3 linked regions of the Homo sapiens genome follow. The protein of the gene in region 1 purifies or fractionates together with the protein of each later gene. This does not show direct contact. Each region holds a gene or a part of one and is shown in the gene's direction. Other genes may lie near its edges.

Region 1 (7,112 bases):
TATATTCGTTAAATGTTAGTGGAACCACTTATTTTGAACATTAAATAACTTATTTTGGACCTTTAGTATATATCTTACTTTTTATATAGTGCATAATTATTTTGTTTCTGTATTGATTAATGAGGGGCATTAATATTTTGTTGTTGTTTTTGTTAAAACTAGTGTTGAACTAAACTGCAAAATGAAATTTGCTGTCTACTTACCACCAAAGGCAGAAACAGGAAAGTGCCCTGCACTGTATTGGCTCTCAGGTAAGTATTATGCATTTGAGTTTTATAAAGTCGTTTCTATTTTCTTTTTAACTGGCTTATCTTACCCTTTTATTTTAACTTGGTAGGCTTTTTGAGCCATTTATGAAAGACTTTAAGGACCTGTCATAGTCTACTCTGTTACTTTTATCCTCAGAATAATTTCAGACCTACTGAATTATATTTATTTCATATATTTTTCTAATAGACCAAGTAATTTAGCAGAGAATGTAAAGTTCTGTACTCAATAGCAAGGGCTTAGAAAACTTATTTACTTAATTTGGACCTACCCAAGCATTTCTGGAGTTTATAGAGACTTTACTAGTCCATTAGAACAATATTAGGTGAAATCAGGACACCAAGATACTCTAATTAGAAACCAGCTATTGTAAAAAGTCAAATAACTTACAGTGTTCTCTAAAATATTTTAACTGGACTCCATAGAGCTTCTCTGACAACAATCTGGAAAGTCACAAAAGAACGCTAAGGCTTCTCTTAATCAGTGTTTCATATTAACTACTGTAGAATAGATTGTGAAGAGTAAGATTTTGACACCTGCAGTTTTGAAACCTCTATGCTAACTTTTCTTTCACAAGACGCTGGTACTTCATCTTCAGAAGCAAACATAAGGAGAGAATCCTAGCAACTAAATTGTGTCACAGAGTACTATTTTAATTTTGTTTCCTTCAAATTGGTTCCTGTAACTTTGATTTAACAAATCCTCCCTCATGTGTGTTTCATCAAGGACAAGTCCCAAATACCAGTCTTTGAAAATGAGAATAAATATTTCATCTTAAAGGGTAAAGATTAAGTGCATATCTGACTTTAACTCAAGAAAACATTTCTGTGATTGAATGAAGAGCACTGATTTTGCTAGAAGAGCATTAGGTATTGCTAAAAGCAAGAGCAACAAAATTAGTTATTTAATTGTCTTAGAAAATATAATATTGTATAGCTAAAAATGATCTTAGAAATCATGTAATCCCTAGAAAGAAAATGAGGCCCAGTGAAGCTAAATATTGTCCAGGGTCACACGCTAATGTGGAGTTGAACAAGTTTTCTGACTCACAGTCCAGAGCTGTATTTAGTTTTTTCTCCTGTTGTTTTTGCGTTTTGTTTCTGGTGAGGGGTACTATAGTCATATCTCTTGGCTAAACAATAATAACCAGAAGCCCTGAGGCATTGTGTCATAGGTACTCTAATAATAGGGCCCTAAGTTTTAACTAAAATTGAATCTAGCAAGACATATCTGAGCTTTACAAGTATAAAATACAGAATTTTTGTTTGTTTACATCAAATGACAGGACAGTTTCCTTAGTGAGATGCTGAAGAACAGATAGACCTTGGAAATTAAGGCTTGATTTTCTGAGTAAAGGTAAGATTGCCTGACCAGTGCACGTGAGAAATGGTGACAAAAAAATTTCAGAAGGTTTACTTCCCAGCAAGTCTAAGGAAAACAATGACAGAAAGATTACACAATTATTATATAGCTAAAATAGAGAAATTAGCTGAAATCAAAACAGCCAAACTGAAATCTTAAAAGATAGTTCATGTGTAGTGATTTGTATCTTTCCCAAGTGAAGGTGACCATTGAAACAGCCCTTTATTAGCTGTGTACCCAATAGAATTGAAAACATGTCCATACAGAAACTTGCACATGAATGTTCATGGCACACTATTATAATAGCCAAAAAGTATAAACAAACCAAATCTCTCTCAACTGGTGAAATGATCAATAAAATCGATTGCTAGTTCATTCCTCACCATTCTCACATCATTGTAGTATTAGATACCTATAGTAAAAGAATTAAGTCATCTCCTCTATCATGACTGAAAAGCATGGAGCTAGGAAAAATAACAGAAACTTCTAAAAACTGAGGCTAAAACTCAATTTAAGGATGGCATATGGTCACCATTACTCTCTTTTTAGTTCAGTGAAGAATACAAAGATGATTAAGCTAAATTTTGTTGCTGAGAACTATCTGTATGTAAAAAAAAGTATTTGTATTATGAAGACCATAGTATTTGCTTATTTACTGTGAATATGTTTTGGTGCAGAAATAGTGCGATGTTTAATTAGCATATTTGATAACACTTCACTGGGGTTGTTTTAATATTGGGCTTATGCACCATATTGTCACTCTACAGTTTGAAAATTTCTGAATTCCCAAACACTCCTGGTCCAAAGGATTTTAGTAATTGAAACTTTAGTAGTGATTTTAAAAGGATAGTTATGGGATCACTTAACCTAACACAGTTCTTAGGTTAATACTATTACAAATTTTGTGAAAAAGTGAATTTTAGTGTCTTACTCAAAATTGTTTCTAAAGCAAAAAAAATAATAATACCAAATGAGCTTGTTTTCCTGTATTATAAACAGTTTAAAGCTTATAAACCATTCACAATATAGCATGAGATAATTTATTTTTAATAATTTCAACTTTTATTTTAGATTAAAGGGGTACACGTGCAGGTTTGTTATATGAGCGTATTGCGTGACATGGAGGTTTGGGGTATGAAAGATACCATCACCCGGGTAGTGAACATAGTACCTAACTGGTAGTTTTTCAGCCCTTGTCCGTCTCCGTCTCCCCCTGCTCTAATAGTCCCCAGTATTAATGGTGCACATCTTCATGTCCATGTGTGCCCAATAACAATATTTTTTATCTTCAGGTTTAACTTGCACAGAGCAAAATTTTATATCAAAATCTGGTTATCATCAGTCTGCTTCAGAACATGGTCTTGTTGTCATTGCTCCAGATACCAGCCCTCGTAAGTGTTTGTGGTCTAGATATCCTTTGTAAAAATCTAAATCTTTAAGACTGGTATAAAGTGGTATGATATATACATTATACAATTCATTTTATATTTTTGCTGTTATCTCTATTAACCTTTCAAGTGGCATCATGACTCCAAAATACCATGCTGTACATTTTCCTCATTGAATTTTACTCATGACATGGCCTTTATGAAAGAGGATAGTTTTGCTATTCCCATTGTACAGATTAAGATACTTCAAAGCAGAGATTGAGCAACTCAATTCATATATCATGTTGGCACTACTGTCAAAATACTAATGTGTAATGCATAGGAAATTATTTTTCTATTCCAGAGGTATACTGTCTTGTTGCATGATAATTACATCTTTTTTCATCTCTGTTAACATCAACCATACAGTTAAACAAGTATTAGTTTTAATATAAATGATTTGAATATTTACATTAGAGAAATGAAAATATCAACTACGTGAGACTCAATGCATCAGACAGTTAAAACTTGTTTTATGACTCTAGAAGTTTCAGGAAATGGAATTTAAATGGCAGTAAAACTAGGGAAGTTATATGGCTGGCCTGGCAAGTAGTATATTTCCTTTCACAGGCCATATTATACAAAAACAATGCATATCTGGTTAGAAATATAACAACAGATTTAATTCAAAATAATATCAAAAATATAAAATACGAAAATAGATATATAAAAGGGAAACTAAAATTTTGTTATCATAAACGAAGACTTTAATAAATGGGAAAATGCTGTGTTTCTAGATGGATAAAATGAATCTTACGACAAGGTCATGTCTCCAAATTACTCTACGTGTTACTGTAATTCTATTCAAAATCCCAATGGTTGGCTTTTTAACCACATGCAAGTATATAAAATAAAATGTAACAAGTTAAAAAGAAACATAAGAAAATTCCAGTGGAGGTTGGATAGATAGGAAAAATGTGATGGAAAGCATATTAGAAAACATTTTCAGTTCAAGATAGTAAGTTGAGCACAAGCATCTGCCTCCCCACTCCTGTGTAAAGAGAATTTAAAAAGTGCTGATAGTGAGAGAGGGTCATCAGGGAAGGGATCACAACACATTTCTGAAAGATAAAAAGAGGATATAAGTCCTTTTTGACAGGTAAACCAGAGTAAGGAAACATATGTTCAGAGTACATAAGAAACTTCATCAACAAAGAAAGTTAGTGTATCTTACCTTGGCAGCTGAATACTCCAGCTTGGAAGGTCATTTTTTACCTCATTGGCCAGAACGAGTCGCAGGGCCCCATTCAAGGGCAAGAGGAGCAGGAAGTATAATCCTATCATGTGCTCCAAAAGGCAGAGAGCTCACAACATTTGGTGAACAGTTCCCATGCAAATGGACTTGCAGATTCATCTGAAAGTGTGTTATTAAACATGGGCCATTACTACAGAGCAGATGAAACCACAAGATTGTTTCTTGATAGGTGGCTGCAATATTAAAGGTGAAGATGAGAGCTGGGACTTTGGCACTGGTGCTGGATTTTATGTTGATGCCACTGAAGATCCTTGGAAAACCAACTACAGAATGTACTCTTATGTCACAGAGGAGGTAATTTAATTTGTATTGTAATTATTAATTGATGACTGCCAAGAGTTTGATTTTGAACACAAAGTCCTTACAATCCTGAGGATTTTAAACTAGGGTATAAAAGTTACTAGTAAAAATTCCAAAGTTTGCTAGTACTATAGTTCTATTTACTGCAATTTAAATTAACACTAAGTACAATTAAAGAATATAATCATTATATTGAGACCTGTTTATACTACCCAGAATAACCAAGAAAATGGTATATGAAAAAAACCTTTAATTTGCCTGGCAGCTGGTTCATTTGGATGTATTTTATAGTGATAAGCCAAGGCTTAGTTAGAAAACATAAGTGGTAAAGCATTACCTCTATTAATAATATTTGTATGCTGCTTATGCATTTTCTGAATTTTATATGATTTTCATTGTTACTATGTATATCATAAAAACTTAGAAACAATAGTGTAAGTTTTTAATTACCCATAATTCTGTTACCCCCCCAAAACACTTATGTTTTGGTATGTTCCAGACTGTTTCTATGACTAGTTTTCACGTAATTCTAAACTTTTTTATTTTCTTCTTCTTTTTAAGTTACATATAAAAATATTTTCTAGTGTTATTCTGATTTTAATAATTGTGTAATATTCTGTCATATGCCATAATTGACTTTTTCCTCTTATAGAATACTTATGGTTTTGTATATGTTTTTACCCTAATAAATATTACTGCATTGATTATATTTGTGCATAATGTTTTCTCCCTAAGGACTTTTCCTTAGAATATATTCCAAAAAGTGAAATTACTAGGTCAAAACTTAAAAGCATTTTAAAGGTTCTTTCTGCATCACCTTCCTAAAGTGTTTTCTAAGAAGTCTGTACCATATATTTTCCAGGGATATATTAATAATCATGGTCTGCCTGAGGATTTAGTTTTGTTTTGTTTTCATTGTTACTAGTTCAAACCATTGTAAGACTATGATTTGGCAGTATTGATTGTGTAATTATTTTCTGTAACTTTGAAATGTCTGAACTTATTTTCTTTGATATCTTTTGTCACACTATTAAATTTTTTCTAGCTTCCCCAACTCATAAATGCCAATTTTCCAGTGGATCCCCAAAGGATGTCTATTTTTGGCCACTCCATGGGAGGTCATGGAGCTCTGATCTGTGCTTTGAAAAATCCTGGAAAATACAAAGTAAGATTATCTAAACTTCTAGTGATAAATATTTCTCTTGAATAACATAATATTAGGAACCTTCAAAGAGTAAAATTACAATATTGTTAGTATTGGAACTAAACTTTTCTAGTGTTGAGAACTTTGGGGTGTTTGAAGGGTGGGTATTTAATTTGACCATAGAGTGTATGCTGCAGAATCAGACGCATAGGAATTCAGCAAGAGTGCTTTCTTATTGGCCTACTGGAAGTATTATAAAATGTAGCTTCTCCTTTAATTGTTTTTATTCCAACTATAGTTTTGAACACACTTTTTTTCTGTAAAGGTTATTATTACTGATTAATGTTATAGTGGCAGGATCTATCATTTATATTCTTACCAGGGATGTCTTTGTAAAGTTGACTTTGATTTTCTGAGGTAAAAGATATGATTTGTAGAAGCTTAAGAATTGTGTTCTTAATGCCTCTAATGAAAATTGAAATGCAGCTTGATTAAAAAACATCACTCTCAGCCTTTCCCAGAGTCAAATTTGAATAACTACCATATGTAGTATGTCATACTGTGCAGAACAGCATGTTACAAGAGTTGAATAAGGAAGTGTTAAAGCAACTAGCATCTTAAAATTTCTTCTGCCTTTAAATTTACAGGGCTGTTCATGCCCTTAAAATTGGTTTAATTCATTTCCTCCTCTTAGGAAGAACTTGATTATTTTAGGTGTGCTACTGAGAAATGAAAACATTTCTCATAACAGTTTCTTTCTGTGGCATCAAATATTTTGTTTTTGGTACGCTTTATTATCAAGTTTTATTAATTCATGGCCTGACAGTGGGCTTTCTAAGTAAGCACTTTTATTTCCATTTTTTAAGGCAGTCTATCATGTCTGAGGTAGAAAAGCAAACTTAGTTGATTTTTTTGTCCTTTAAAAAAGCTAGTAGATACCACTAAACATTTACATTGATGAGTACTCTGAAGTTGAGAGATCCCATCTCTGCATCTCATCCAGTGAAAAAGAACATTGTATAGAACACAGAGTTGTATTAAAAATTCTGTCATATTGAAATGCATTGCTCACTGCTTTGTTGGTACTGTTTAAGAGAAATGTGTCAGATTTAGTAACATGTTCACTAAGGTAAGCATGAACTGTTTTATATCACTATAGATTAATTTTCAGTGCTAAAAAAGCAGAAACGCTGAACATAGACTTCTGTTTGTATCTTAAATTGCAATGTATTGTTTTGCATTATTTTAGCAACTATACTTATTAGCTCTCTTAATAGAATACACAAAAGATGTATTATGGAAAGGCCTGCAATCTAAGCCAGCAATATATCAAAAGGAAAATTGTTCACAGGGTTTT
Region 2 (7,112 bases), on another chromosome or scaffold:
CCTTGTACGTGGCAGCATTGGCCAGTTCTTCGCAGCCAGGTCTTCCCTCTGCATCCCCAAGAGATGAGACCTTTGGACCTTAGAGTCTGCTAGGCAGATGCTTGTCCTGAGGCAGAGGCCCTGGGGTTTCTGTAAGATTTCTGGGAGCACTGGTGGGTCCTGAGAGTTCACAGAGCCTGTCACACCTCTCATGTGTTCTTCCCCACATCCCCGGGTGGGGCACTAACTCCATCTGACTGATGAGCGGCAGAACCTCAGGTGAAGGCTCTTGCTGCAAAACAATAAATAAAAATGTTGCTTCCCGCAGGCACTATTCTGTGCCTCATGGACAGGATCTCATCCAGTCATCAGTGAACCAATGATGTGAGCACGATTGTTAGCTATTTCTTGATAGGGAAACTGAGCTCCGAGAGAAGTGACTTGTCCATGGTCCCACAACAACTAGTAGATGGTGGGGCCAGACCTCAGACCCCCCGATACAGGACGCCTGGCTCAGGGCTTGCCAAGCAGTGTCCTGCAGCTTCAGGGGGCCAGTGCCTCAGAGGTGCCTGGTGCCTGGGCCACACTTGGGTGTTGAGCCTATACAGCACCCAAGGTGTTGAGCACTTGGGTGTTGAGGTGTTGCTGCCTTTCTTACCAAATGTTTTGGGGGAAGTGCTCCCCACGGCTGGGAGGAGCGCCTCAGTGAAGGGAGTACTGTGAAATGGGACAGGTGATGAGGCAGGGTGGCATCGCGCCTTGAGCAAGTCACATGGGTTCTCAGAGCCACCTCCAGATGCTGAAGTGGACGAGGCATCACCTATTCTTTGCAGTTGAGGAAAAGTTCATAGCTTTGTGTACCCACTGGGGCCTCCCAGGACTTCTTCCTCAGGGGCCTTGTGGGGCTGGAGCCAGCTCCTGGAAGAACCACCAACCCCGATGAGAAGCCAGGTGGGGATGCTCCACACCCAGGATGAGGCCGGGCCTGGGCCCATCACAGGACAGTTTCTCTGGTTCTTGTCACATCCTGGGGTCATGGTGGTATGGGTGTTTGGTTACTGTGCTACAAATGAGGAAACTGAGGCATGGGGCAGCATTCAAAGGCCCAAGACATATAGCAGGAAATATCAGAGCTATTCAAGAGCCCAGGCCACCTGTCTCCCAAGGCTCTGGCTCTTCTTGGCCACCCTGGAGACGGCCTGGATTAAATGGGGCTGCTCCTACCAGTTCCATCCTGGGAGAGTGGCTGGACGTGGTTGGGAGGCCCCGGGTCAGTGGGGCCATTTTTTGGTATTCTCGGCTGAGGGCTTCTAAATATAACATCTTGGATTATTTTTCAGATTATTCTGGAAAACTATGCGTACCCTGGTGTTCTTCTGATTGGCACTGACTCCCACACCCCCAATGGTGGCGGCCTTGGGGGCATCTGCATTGGAGTTGGGGGTGCCGATGCTGTGGATGTCATGGCTGGGATCCCCTGGGAGCTGAAGTGCCCCAAGGTGAGGGTGGGGAGGGACTCATTCTGGGCTGGCTGTGGGGTGGTGGTTGGTGGGGATGAACGGGAGACGGTGGGACCCAGGAGGGAAAAGGGAACAAGTTAGACTCGAATCTTCTGGGAGGGAGGTAGAGACCAATAAGCAGCAATGTGAATGGCAGCAGGGCCATCCTGACTTCGTGGCTGGCACAGGCACACACGGCCTCTCACAGCCGCCTCGCCCCCTCCTGTCCAGGTGATTGGCGTGAAGCTGACGGGCTCTCTCTCCGGTTGGTCCTCACCCAAAGATGTGATCCTGAAGGTGGCAGGCATCCTCACGGTGAAAGGTGGCACAGGTGCAATCGTGGAATACCACGGGCCTGGTGTAGACTCCATCTCCTGCACTGGTGAGGAAGGCGGCCAGGCGACGTGGCCCCTACCCTGTGCTGGGCCTGATGGGTCTCCAGTTGGGAGTAGAAGCGGTGAATGGCCTTCACTTGAGAATCTGTCTGTTCCATTTGGGGACTTGGGATAGACAGAGGTAGAAGGAAAATTGGAGACAGCATTAGAGATTGTCTAGTCCACATCCTCATTAAACAGATGAAGAGATTGAGATACCTGTCGAGGCTGCCGGTGACTTCCTAACTGTGTGGCCACACACGGTTAGGAGCCAAGTCAGCTTCTGCTGCTGGGCCCAGGCCATAGCACTAGGCCACCTTGGGTGATCTAGACGAATCCAGAGAGGACAGAGGCAGTGGTGGGAATGGGCAGAGCCAGGGCTTCATTCATGAAGCAGCTGCAGGCCCACATCCTCCCTTCGCTGAAGTTCGAGCCTCACTCACTTCCCTTGGATTAGAGATCGGTGCCTGTCCGCCTCCAAGACCAGGTAGGAGCCAGCTGCTCCCTGCCTGTCACTCCTGGTGACCTGGCCTGGATGCCTGGTCCTCAGAAATCCAGGGAGATTTGTAACAGTCTAGACTTCCCAGGTGCCTGCCTGGGCTCCCTGGCAGCCCTGCAGAACTCTGGTTCCCCTGCAGTGATGGGGGCTCACTCCTGCCACGGGACTGCTCAGTCAGGACGTTGGTAACAGGCCCATACCTCCGTCCTAGTGGCTCCTGAGGCAGGTGGCCTGGTAGCAGCTGCAGTACCTGTGAGCCCCACCAGTTCTGTGACGCTTTGTGGTCCAGACAGTGTGTATCATTTCAGTTTTTGTTTTTGTTCTTGTTTTTTGAGACAGAGTCTAACTCTGTCGCCCAGGCTGGAATGCAGTGGTGCAATCTCGGCTCACTACAACCTCCGCCTCCTGGGTTCAAGCAATTCTCCGGTCTCAGCCTCCTGAGTAGCTGGGATTACAGGTGTGCACCATGATGCCTGGCTAATTTTTTTTGTATTTTTTTTTAGTAGAGATGGGTTTTCACCATGTTGGCCAGGCTGGTCTCAAACTCCTGACCTCAGGTGATCCACCCACCTCGGCCTCCATCACTGGAAAACTTGAGACACAGAAAAGTGTCTCCACCATGGTATGGCTGAAGGAGGGCAGGCCACCAGGCAGACAGACCAAGATCCGAATGTCAGCATCTACCTTTATGTGCTTTATGGCATGACCTTGAATCTCTCTGAGCCAGTTCCTCCCCTGCCAAAAAGAATAGCAACTGGGCAGTGTCTGGTCAGGTCAGCCTACAGTACGTGGTGCCTGTTCAATCTCTTGGGCGACAGTCAGGCCCCAAGCTCGCAGCTCAGTGTGTGGGGGCTGAATCTTCACCTGAGTCCTCTTCATTCTACCCAGCAGCCACCCTGAGCTGGGGCCCTGAGCTCTGATCCCCATGGCCTCCCCTCACCGGCCCAGGTTTTTACCCAGGGCCTCAAGGGATGAGTCGGCCCGCTGTCACCACATCTCTCTGAGTGGGAGGAGAAGCAATGCAGCTCCCTGGTGTGAAGATGCAGGTGGCCGCGTAGCAGGTGTGTGGGACCCTGGCCCGGCCACCAGCCAATGCCCGGGGCTCTGTTGCTCCACAGGCATGGCGACAATCTGCAACATGGGTGCAGAAATTGGGGCCACCACTTCCGTGTTCCCTTACAACCACAGGATGAAGAAGTACCTGAGCAAGACCGGCCGGGAAGGTGAGCTGGCAGGGGCAGGCCCGTGTGGGTGGAACAGTCACATGCCCGCTCCTCCCCAAGACAGAGCTATGCCTTTCCCTGTAGGGCAGGGGTTCTTAACCCATTGTCTCCAGACAGGCGTCCGAGGCTCTGAGAAAGCCCTGAAGAGGTGCAATATGTTTCTGAGTAGATTGTCTGGAGCTCTCTCCAGCTTCTCAAAGGGCCTGGCATCTGAGTTCAAGATAGCCCCACCTCAGGATGGGCATTTCATTTTCCCTGGAAGGTGGCTGAATGCCCGCCCTTCTCGGCCTGGTCCCTGCTGCCCCCTACAGGAAACTCCGGAAATGACATGGATCGCTTCTGTTGATAATTCCTGACCTAGCAGGGGAACATTTGGAAGGAGAACCACTTTCCCAGCCTCCCCTGACAACTTCCCTGAGGCTCTAGCCTGGCTTCTTTGGAGCTCAGAGGGCATTGGCACCTGTGAAGGGTGGTGCGTTGTGGGAGTGAACGAGGAGCCAGAGACCAGGGGCCATGGGGAGAGCCGTAAGCACGTGGAATCCTTGGAAGGCTCCTCCCTTTCCTTATTGAGTGACTGCTTCTTCAAAACCCAGCTCTTCACTTCCAGGACACCCTCCCCGGCTCTGAACCTTAGCTGGCGCTCCTCCTCTGTGTCTCCGTGTCCCTGACAGCTCCTGCACTAGGGTGTGAGCTCTGTAAGGGCAGAGACAGCAGCCTTGGTTTCTTCATTGGCCTAGTCAGTGCCCAGGGTGGGCCTGGTGTTTGGCAGGTGCTCAGGTGGGTGGTGAGTGAACTCTCAAGAACAGTTTATGTTTCACGTGCTCCATCCCCGTCCCTTGTTGATTTCAGACATTGCCAATCTAGCTGATGAATTCAAGGATCACTTGGTGCCTGACCCTGGCTGCCATTATGACCAACTAATTGAAATTAACCTCAGTGAGGTGAGGAGACAATTAACTGGGTTCAAGAAGTTTCTGAGAGTAGTGGGGAGCAGGGCGGGTCCTGCCTAAATACTCACTGAGGGCCGGGTGGTGGCTCACAGCTGTAATCCCAGCACTTTGGGAGGCCAAGGCAGGTGGGTCAGTTGAGGTCAGCAGTTCAAGACCAGCCTGTCCAACATAGTGAAACCCCGTCTCTACTAAAAAAAAAAAAAAAAATACAAAAATTAGCTCGGCATAGTGCCATGTGCCTATAATCCCAGCTATTCAGGAGGCTGAGGCAAGATAATCGCTTGAACCCGGGACGCAGAGGTTGCAGTCAGCCGAGATCGCACCACTGCACTCCAGCCTGGGCGACAGAGCGACACTGTCTCAAAAACAAAACAAGAAAAACCTCAGGGTGACTCGTGGGCCCCTGGGTCCCCAGTGTTCCTGCAAACTGCTTCCTGAAGCAGCCTGGAGCAGTGGGTGGGGAGGGGGGAGACACAGCCACGGGGAGAGCAGAGGTAGCTCTGGCTGCTGAACCAGAAGTGGATGTCAGTTTGCCACCAGCTCAGCTTTAGGAGAAGCCAAGGTTTCACCCTGAAGGGTTTTTGTTATCTGAGTTCAGAGGGCAAATCCCAGCAGGGTTAGGCACCCTGAGACGCACAGATCAGAGCAGGTGTTTGCAGAGCCAGAGGAAGGGCAGGCTAGAGGATCCCGTCTGCAGGAGTTCACACCTCGGCTCTGCCACTTAAGTTGTGTGGCCTTGGTCACGCACTTAGCCTCTGTAGGCCCCTTGCTCCATCACGTGTGGAACCTACAGCAGTCGTGAGGATTGAATGAATTCATGTAACTAACACTGACGGAGGTTTACTGCATGCTGCGCACATAGCTGAGTGCCTCGCATTTACTGATGATTATGATATGTAAAGCGTCTGGCCTTAAGTCCATTTTTGTCATGATTCCAAAAGCGGCCGGGCATGGTGGCTGACACCTGTAATCCCAGCACTTTGGGAGGCCGAGGCGGGCAGATCATGAGGTCAGGAGATTGAGACCATCCTGGCTAATGTGATGAAACCCCGTCTCTACTAAAAAAATACAAAAAAATTAGCCAGACGTGGTGGCGGGCGCCTGTAGTCCCAGCTACTCGGGAGGCTGAGGCAGAAGAATGGTGTGAACCCGAGAGGCGGAGGCTGCCGTGAGCCAAGATCGTGCCACTGCACTCCAGCCTGGGCAGCAGAGCGAGACTCCATCTCAAAAAAAAAAAAAAGATTCCAAAAGCAACATCGAATGGGAGATAATGAACTTAGGAAGCTGACAGCCTTGATCCATTCCATGCCTCTGCTGTCTCCTAGCTATGTGACTTCAAGCACAGCATGTCACTTCTGAGCTTCAGTTCCTTCATCTGCAGAGCTGAGCCCAGCCTTGCAGGGCTGGAGGGAGCCCGGGAGCGGGTGTGTGCAGAGCCAACTGCTCAGTTCTTCCCTGTGATGAGGTTTCAGTCAAGAGAAAGTCGTTGGCCTCTCTGTGGGGACGTGGTGAGGCAGTGAAAGAGGCTGTCCCCGCTTCAAGGTTTCTTCCCTCCTCTCTTTCTTCTCCTTGCATGTTTGTTTCTTCAGCTGAAGCCACACATCAATGGGCCCTTCACCCCTGACCTGGCTCACCCTGTGGCAGAAGTGGGCAAGGTGGCAGAGAAGGAAGGATGGCCTCTGGACATCCGAGTGGGTGAGCACCTTCCACCCCATCTGTTTAGCAGGTCTCAGGGCCAGTGGCTCTGCCCAGGGCTGTAGACAATCACCTATGCCTACTGTGTGGCACTTTCTAAGGTGGGCAGTTTCTGAAATGGGTTTATTATTGAAAAATTACTTTTTCGGCCAGAAGTGGTGGCTCATGCTTGAAATCCCAGCATTTCAGGAGGCCAATGCAGGTGGATTACTTGAGTCTAGGGGTTCAAGACCAGCCTGGGCAACATGGAAAAACCCCGTCTCTTAAAAGAAAATGCAAAAATTGGCCAGGGGCAGTGGCTCACACCTGTAATCCCAGCACTTTGGGAGGCCGAGATGGGTGGATCATGAGGTCAGGAGATCGAGACCATCCTGGCTAACACGGTGAAACCCCATCTCTACTAAAAATACAAAAAATTAGCCAGGGGTGGTGGCAGGCACCTGTAGCCCCAGCTACTTGGGAGGCTGAGGCAGGAGAATCGCTTGAACCCAGGAGGCGGAGGTTGCAATGAACCGAGATTGTGTCACTGCACTCCAGCCTGGGTGACAGAGCGAGGCTCCGTCTCAGAAAAAAAAAAAAAAATTGGCCAGGTGTGGAGGCGCATGCCTATAGTCCTAGCTACTCAGGAGGCTAAGGTGGGAGGATCACTTGAGTCCTGGAGGTCAAGGCTACAGTGAGCCGAGATGGTACCACTGCATTCCAGCCTGGGCAACAAAGGCAGACTCAAAACTGCAGACTCAAGCAACAGAGCCTGCCTCCAAAAAAAAAAAAAAAAAAAAAAAAGAAAGAAAAGAAAAATTACTTTTTCTTGGCAGAAAAGAAAAATATGTTTATTGTAGAGAATATTCACAATCAAGAAGAATTTTTAAAACTCCTAATCTCAACCCCCAGCC
Region 3 (6,979 bases), on another chromosome or scaffold:
CTTGACCACTCAAAGCAACTTGACTACGTAATGATCATGATTAAAACTTTTATCCTATTAAAATATCCTGTATTTCACCATTCCTGAAAATTCCAGTCAAATGTTATAGTTTAAAATGTGTACAAATTGTGTATGTATAAAATTGTAAGACATAGTAATAAAGTGGTTCTCATTGAGACTACAGTTTTAAATTAAATTACAAGCACTTTTATTTTTGCCATAACTAAATTTGGAATTACTACGTTTAAGATTCACTAAAGTGAATGTAATAATTATTTTTAAAATACTACATATTCATTTTAAGAAATTACTTGAGAATACTTTCAAAAATGTCCTGCATGTCACTTAAGCCAACAAATAATTTCCAAGATACCTAGCATTACACTTAAATTTTAAAAAGGGTAAAAAGCCAAAGTTTTTTTTTTCAGCTAAGGTCAACTATTTAGCTCTGCAATCTTTCCTTTAAAAAATATTTGTAATAATTTGGTCTCTGATTTATTTCACAAGTCTTAACCTTGCTTTATAAATAATCCTATTTTCAATCACACTCCATTATCTAACATGGCTGTTTACTAAATACATGATCCTATGGTAAAGTACATATTTCTAAAAATGTAGCTACTTAGACAGACAGCAATGTAAAGGCATCTTTACATTATAGTACTCTCTAAATATTACATTGTTACTTTCAACAAAAAGGAACCAGATTATAACAAAATTGTTATAAAATAGCTTAAAAGTGTAATAGAACTTCATTAAAGAAAACATTAAGATGAATGAGTTTTAACTAGATCTATAACAATTTTATATATGCTAGAGATAAAATTAATATGAGGTTAAATAATTTTCTTTTTTTTTTTTTTTTTTTGAGACAGGATCTCCCTTTGTCGCCCAGGCTGGGGTGCAGTGATGCCAGTGCAACTTCTGCTTACTGGGCTCAAGCAACCCTCCCACCTCAGCCTCTTGAGGAGCTGGGACTACAGGTGCACAACACCACACTCAGCTAATTTTTTAAAAATTTTTTGTAGAGACAAGGTCTCAGTATATTGCCCAGGCTGGTCTCAAACTCTTCGACTCAAGCAGTCCTCCGGCCTTAGCCTCTCAAAGTGCTGAGATTACAAGTGTGAGCCACCACGCCTAGCTGTGGTTAAATAATTGTATACTATAAAAAAGCATAAGATCTTGTGAGTTCCAAAGTGCCTTGGGTATCAAGAGCCAACATTCTATTTCAGAGATTTGAAACTTAATGATCCTTTAATATCTTTGCTGGATGTTGTTAGAATGGTATTTCAAACATTTTCTACAATTTGAATTAAATATTACCTTACTAAATAACGCGAGGCTGGGCAAAAAAAATGTTAAGCATAACTCCAAATATAGCATAACAGTTTAATGCTCTGTTTGTTGCCTTAACAAAAAATGAATGTCTGCAACACATTCACAAACCACCTGGAGATTCAAACTCACAGTGAAAGTGCAATGACATATTGTGCTACTTGACATTAGCTATTACCAAAGACGGTTCAAAAGGAAGAGAACACAGACAATCTTATTAGTATAATTGGAAATGTGCTGATATACCCACCTTACCAAACATCTTCTCTTGCAGTGTATTATATTACCTGAGAAAAGTAACTTACAATCAGTGCTAATATGCTCCTTAACCTGATTTACAAGGGCAACTAGCAATAAACAGAACAAGGCCCGTGAACTACCACACAGGTGACTTCAATTCTGTATATCTGGACTGGATGGGAATACGGGGGCTTACATGTTTGTGGCCTTCTTGGAGTATGGGAATGTCCTGTCCTGCTATAGGACTGCAGTGAGAATTCTGGTTATAAAAAGTCTCCCTTGTAAAATTCACTGTAAATCGAGGACAAAAATCATGAGATTGTTTTGTTATACTTTAAGTTCTAGGGTACATGTGCACAACGTGCAAGTTTGTTACATATGTACGTATACATGCCATGTTGGTGTACTGCACCCATTAACTCGTCATTTACATTAGGTAAAATCATGATATTTTTAAGGACAACAACATGGAAAAATCTTTCTGTTAGCAGCTAGTAGAAGAATTCATTTAGGAGGATAATGGAAGAAATTTTTCGTAACTGCTCAGAGTAAAAAGTAAAACTCAGAGAACCTAGGTTTGAGAATAATGCACACCTACTAATTCAGGACTAGACACATAAATTTGAGAGTTTTTGACATTAAAAGTAGCATTTGAAGTGATGCAACTTATGAATTAGCTCACTGAGGGATTTAGTATAGACAGAGAATACAGGCACCCCAATGTTAAGAGATCACAACTAAAAAAAATTTAGAAACTCCGCAGAACTGAGAACCAGTAACAAAAGAGGAAAACCAGGAAAGTATGTTGTCTGAGAGCCAAATGAATAAAGAGATACAAGGAGAGTCATTCAGGTATGATATTAATAAATGCTAAAAGTAAAGCATTACATTTCTTTCCAAAAATAGCAAATCCTCCAAACTGAAATAGAGAAAAATTGAAAGATATTACTTGGCATTCATTTATCAGTGACAGAGAAAAAACGGAAGTTCTAACAATGTTATCTAATAGAGATGTTTTATTCATTTTCATTACGTATATGCTGTGTATGCTACTCCCGAGCATCATATCTTCCTTTTAACATCCACAAGAAACAAGCTTTCAAAAAGCACAGCAATTCTCTTGGCAGCATTAATTTTAAAGAGAACCTCTTAAGTTGTTTTACCAGCTGAGACTGACTGACTAAACAACCAGTGTCTCCCCTTCAGTCGCCAGTCTTTCCTTAGAAATGCCTGTTTGGCATAACTTTAAGACTCAAGATGGTTTAAGGCGCATCCTGTTTCTTCCAAAAGGGAATGGACAAAACTCAACATTCACGGAGGGCTTAGAGCAAATTAGAACCGTATACTGTGACCTCCTGGAAGGGAGAGGCTCACCTCCTACAAAGTAAATGCTCAATAAATATTTTTGATATAACTCTGGAAGAGCTCCATTTGGGGTCGGGGGTGCACCTACTCCAGGGCACCACCCCCTCCAAAATAGCTGCATTCCCACAGCCCTCATACTCCGCTCAGAAAAGGGACCGGCGAGCTTGCAGGCATCCGCACAGCGGATAAAAGCAAAGCGGGACGGCGCACCAACCGCATTCCGGATCCTAAGGTTAAAAGAAAACCCCTTGCCCTCGGGCCAGGGCTCACCTGTCTCGGGAGTGGGGAAGAAGCGCGACTCCCGGCCGCTTTGGAGTAGGCGTCCCAGCAAAACTCTCGCCTCATCACCAGACACTACCCCGGGCAGAAGGTTCCTAGGCTAGGTCCTCGGACCCGAGAGGGAGCGACACGCTCGCTTGGTCTCTTGGGTCTCCAGGACGCCGCCGCCGCCGCCACAGTTTCCTCAGGTGCTACAAAGCAGCCAGGGTGTGCGTGCGCTCCCGCCTCGTCGCTTAGCAACCTGAGAAGCTGTCCGGTCGTCCCAACTTATCAATTCCCCCGCCCCTCCAGAGTGTCAATCGTTTTTTAAAAGATTTTGTTTCCGGGTCGATCCAGCTTTACGCAGCGGAAGGTCTCTTTACCTCCCACGTTTACCCTCATGGGAGGATGCAGTCTCAGTCACGCGCGTGGGGGTGATGTCGCTAAGGGGTGATTCTCCCCTCCCTAGAGTTACACACGCTATCTCTCCCGCCAATTGCCGGGCTCCATCAGGCAGGTCCTTTCCTCCTGAGCCCAAACCATCCGTTTGTTGTCGTCCTCCAATCACAGGGGCTCATCCTCAGGGACTACTTTGCAATCGGCGCAGAGCGCAGTGAGAAGAGCTTGAAAAAAACCTCTGGTATCGGGAAGTGTAGTTCAACACTTGAAGGAAATGCTTTGGAGATTGCGCCACAACCAGGGCAGCGTAAACTACAGTTCCCAGAGAGCGCCGCGTCGGGAGCGGAGCCTTTTCTCGCTAACACCGCTCGCCCTCTCCGAGTCAGTTCCGCGGTAGAGGTGACCTGACTCTCTGAGGCTCATTTTGCAGTTGTTGAAATTGTCCCCGCAGTTTTCAATCATGGTGAGTGTGGGCCCCGGGTTCCTGCCCACCTCTGGCCCTCGCGCCCTTGAGTGGGGTTTCTTGCACTTTAGGGACTTTTGGGAGGCAGCTGTGCAAGGCACTGTCCTTCGCGCCCTTTGGCAAGCTCGGACTCATCTTCTGGGGATTGCCGCAGTGACCCAGTAATGGGAAGGGATTGATTTCCACCTTGCGGGGTATGGGGCGCTCTTAGGAGGACTCTGGAGAAGTAGTTGTCCTGGGAGAGGAGCGATCTTAATCCTGCTGCATGACGGGAGGACAAAATGCGACGCTGCAGCTATTTTCCAAAGGACGTTACGGTGTTTGATAAGGACGATAAGGTTTGCGATGGGAGGGAAAGGTTGGGTCCTAACCCCTTTTTCTCCTCATTTGCCCACAGTGTTTATAACGGCTTTTGTCACAGGGACCTTGAAAGCAAAAAGCTGGAAAGGTAGTATTTACCAGGTGCTCCAGATTACGATCTGCGTTTGCAGCAGACGTGTTTCCGCCATATCTAATTTCTCAAAATGTTATTTGGAACCCGTTCATTGACCTTTTTTGTAATGCCAGGATATATTGAAGTGACAGCATCACTAACTAAATAACTACTGCAAATATTCTTTATTGAACTGTATATTGTGAATTCCAGAAGCACCTCTCTTAAATGTAACAGAGTAACCATTTTGTCATGGAAGACCTGGGTAACCTGCATCTCCATCGCTTGTCTCTGCTGAAAGAGAGGGGGAGGGGGAGAGTTGGTGAAGGAACTCTGGCGTAGGAATAATCTGCGTACTGCTTGAAGGTGACATTTGTCATCAAACTCAGAGAAATCGCTTCATACTATCAATACAATGGCTTGTATTTATAGTTGCGACTGTTTTTCCTACTTTATCTGCAAAATACTAAAACGGCTGGAGAATGTGGAGAAATGTTTGAATGAATTGGAAATTTCCCAGAACCTGAAAAGACACGTTTTCAAGGCAAGGGCATTACTCTCTCTGCCTGTCTAACGGGGCCAGTGGAGACAGCTACTAATTTCCAGTAGGTGTTAAACCTAGGTTTCCTAAATGTTTTGTCACATAATTAGTCATTTAAATTATGGTTTCGGTAGTTTCTGTCCTAATAACCTTAGCTAGAAAGCAGAGGTACTTATTATCTGATAACCTTGGACTTTTTGCTTTTAGAACTGAATGGGATCTTTTAAAGGTCATCTTGACGAATCTCCCCACTTCAGATCTTAAAATGGAGTTTATCGAGACCCAAAGAGAATGTGATTTGCTCCAAGAGTCTCACACTCTTGCCATTTTTCTATATTGTGTCTTACACTTACCAAGTCTTTCTGAATTTTTATTTTTATAGGGACCACCGCAGTGAGGTCTCGCAGCGGGGGAGAGACAGTGTACTCAACTCCCTGAAAACTTATTTTTACTAGCTGAGATTCCGGATGAAGTTACCAGTTCATACTGCATATACAAACTCAAATATGTTATCAGCATGTAGATTACTTGATAGCTTTATTCCTTGCCATTCAAAATACTGGAATTGTAGAATTAAAAGGGAATTTGGAGATTATATTATCTACTCTTATAATGTAGTCTGGTGAGGTCAGATAATTTTCCCAAGGTCACAGAGATTTTGGGCCCCAGATTCTTAGCTAGTTTCCCTAGCAAGGCCCCACCGTTGGAAGGTCACTGGGGTGCCAGATAACACAGAGACAGAACATGAGGAAGAATTTGTCTGGCAGTTTGCTGGAACTGACAGCAAACTCACACATGACTCAATTTCCCTGCCCCCTCAGGAGGGTGTGTGAATGGACAGAGTTAGAAAAGAGCCTTCTTCTGTAAGCTCATTCAAAGCGGAGGATTCTTTGCTTGTTGTCTGTAGGGAGTGACAGCAAAATAAACTGTATGAAGGAATCTAAATGGTACTGCTTAGTTTTTTGTGTTATAGAAATACATGTAATTTAGAAATATATATAAATTTGAAAGTGAAAAAGAAATATGTGGCTCTGTCTGTGGAATAACAGACACTTAAATTCAATCTTTATAGCTGAGAAGTTAGCACAGAGCCTGCATCTGCAGGAAAGTCATTGGTGCCCTGCTAAGAGCAAAGACGTTCCTTTTTTGGACCTTGGCACACTGCCCAGATATCTGAGCAAAGAATAGTAACCTATGTTCACACTATAACATTGTGAAAGTCAGCAGGACTCTCCCACCCTCCTGCTTTTCAACTGCAATGTTGCAGAAGAGCAGAAAGAACCATACATGGACTTTTCTTTCTCTGTTTCATCTTCAGACATTCAAACACTAAGCCTCATACTACCATTAATAAGATGGAATTACCTACCTGGGAAAGTAATTTCCCCAAAGACACAGAAGAAAACTGCTGAGGTGGAATTAACTGTTCATTAGGTGGCCACAACCCCTTCACTAAGGACTGTGATACTGTGAACATGTTTTTAAGTAGCTACTAAAATTGACTGCATTATTCTAACCATATAGGTGACCTTATGGGAAGTTAAACTTAATAGATAGTGATCTTCACTCTCTTCAGCCCCCCTTTTCTTATCCTAGTTTGCTGTTCATTGAAGTAGTATCTGTTCATACTTTATACCCTAACCTTCCTTCATTCAACAAATACTTTTTGTGGAAATGCAAATCCATATCAAAGACAGACTGTTCTCAAGAGCGCTTCATGGCCTAATACAGAGCAACAGAAATGTAAATAGAAAACCACAGGCTATTAAAGTCTTTAGAGGAAAATTCTGTGATGATATTTATAAATACTCACTACGTACTGTTCTTAGTGCTTTGTGTGTTAACTCTTTTAATCCTTAAAACTACTCTGTTTGTTAGGTAATTGCTATTATTATCTCCATTTTACTATGGGGAAATAATACAGAAAGGTTAAGTAACTTGTCCT

What was found.
Region 2: the proteins of ESD (region 1) and ACO2 fractionate together in Homo sapiens (co-fractionation; 2 studies listed by BioGRID). This does not show direct contact.
Region 3: the proteins of ESD (region 1) and MDH1 fractionate together in Homo sapiens (co-fractionation; 2 studies listed by BioGRID). This does not show direct contact.

What each region holds. Positions count from the first base shown.
Region 1 is NC_000013.11:46,780,160-46,787,271, reverse strand, and holds part of ESD (S-formylglutathione hydrolase), read left to right. Parts: intron 1-162; coding exon 163-251; intron 252-2,921; coding exon 2,922-3,020; intron 3,021-4,480; coding exon 4,481-4,605; intron 4,606-5,656; coding exon 5,657-5,776; intron 5,777-7,112.
Region 2 is NC_000022.11:41,514,058-41,521,169, forward strand, and holds part of ACO2 (aconitate hydratase, mitochondrial precursor), read left to right. Parts: intron 1-1,319; coding exon 1,320-1,478; intron 1,479-1,709; coding exon 1,710-1,860; intron 1,861-3,469; coding exon 3,470-3,574; intron 3,575-4,423; coding exon 4,424-4,515; intron 4,516-6,113; coding exon 6,114-6,219; intron 6,220-7,112. UniProt on the Homo sapiens protein: Catalyzes the isomerization of citrate to isocitrate via cis-aconitate.
Region 3 is NC_000002.12:63,584,987-63,591,965, forward strand, and holds the start of MDH1 (malate dehydrogenase, cytoplasmic), read left to right. Parts: upstream 1-3,976; 5' UTR 3,977-4,057; coding exon 4,058-4,060; intron 4,061-4,159; exon of another isoform or gene 4,160-4,341; coding exon of another isoform or gene 4,342-4,398; intron 4,399-6,979. Other genes in the region: WDPCP (WD repeat-containing and planar cell polarity effector protein fritz homolog), read right to left, coding at 3,211-3,285. UniProt on the Homo sapiens protein: Catalyzes the reduction of aromatic alpha-keto acids in the presence of NADH. Plays essential roles in the malate-aspartate shuttle and the tricarboxylic acid cycle, important in mitochondrial NADH supply for oxidative phosphorylation.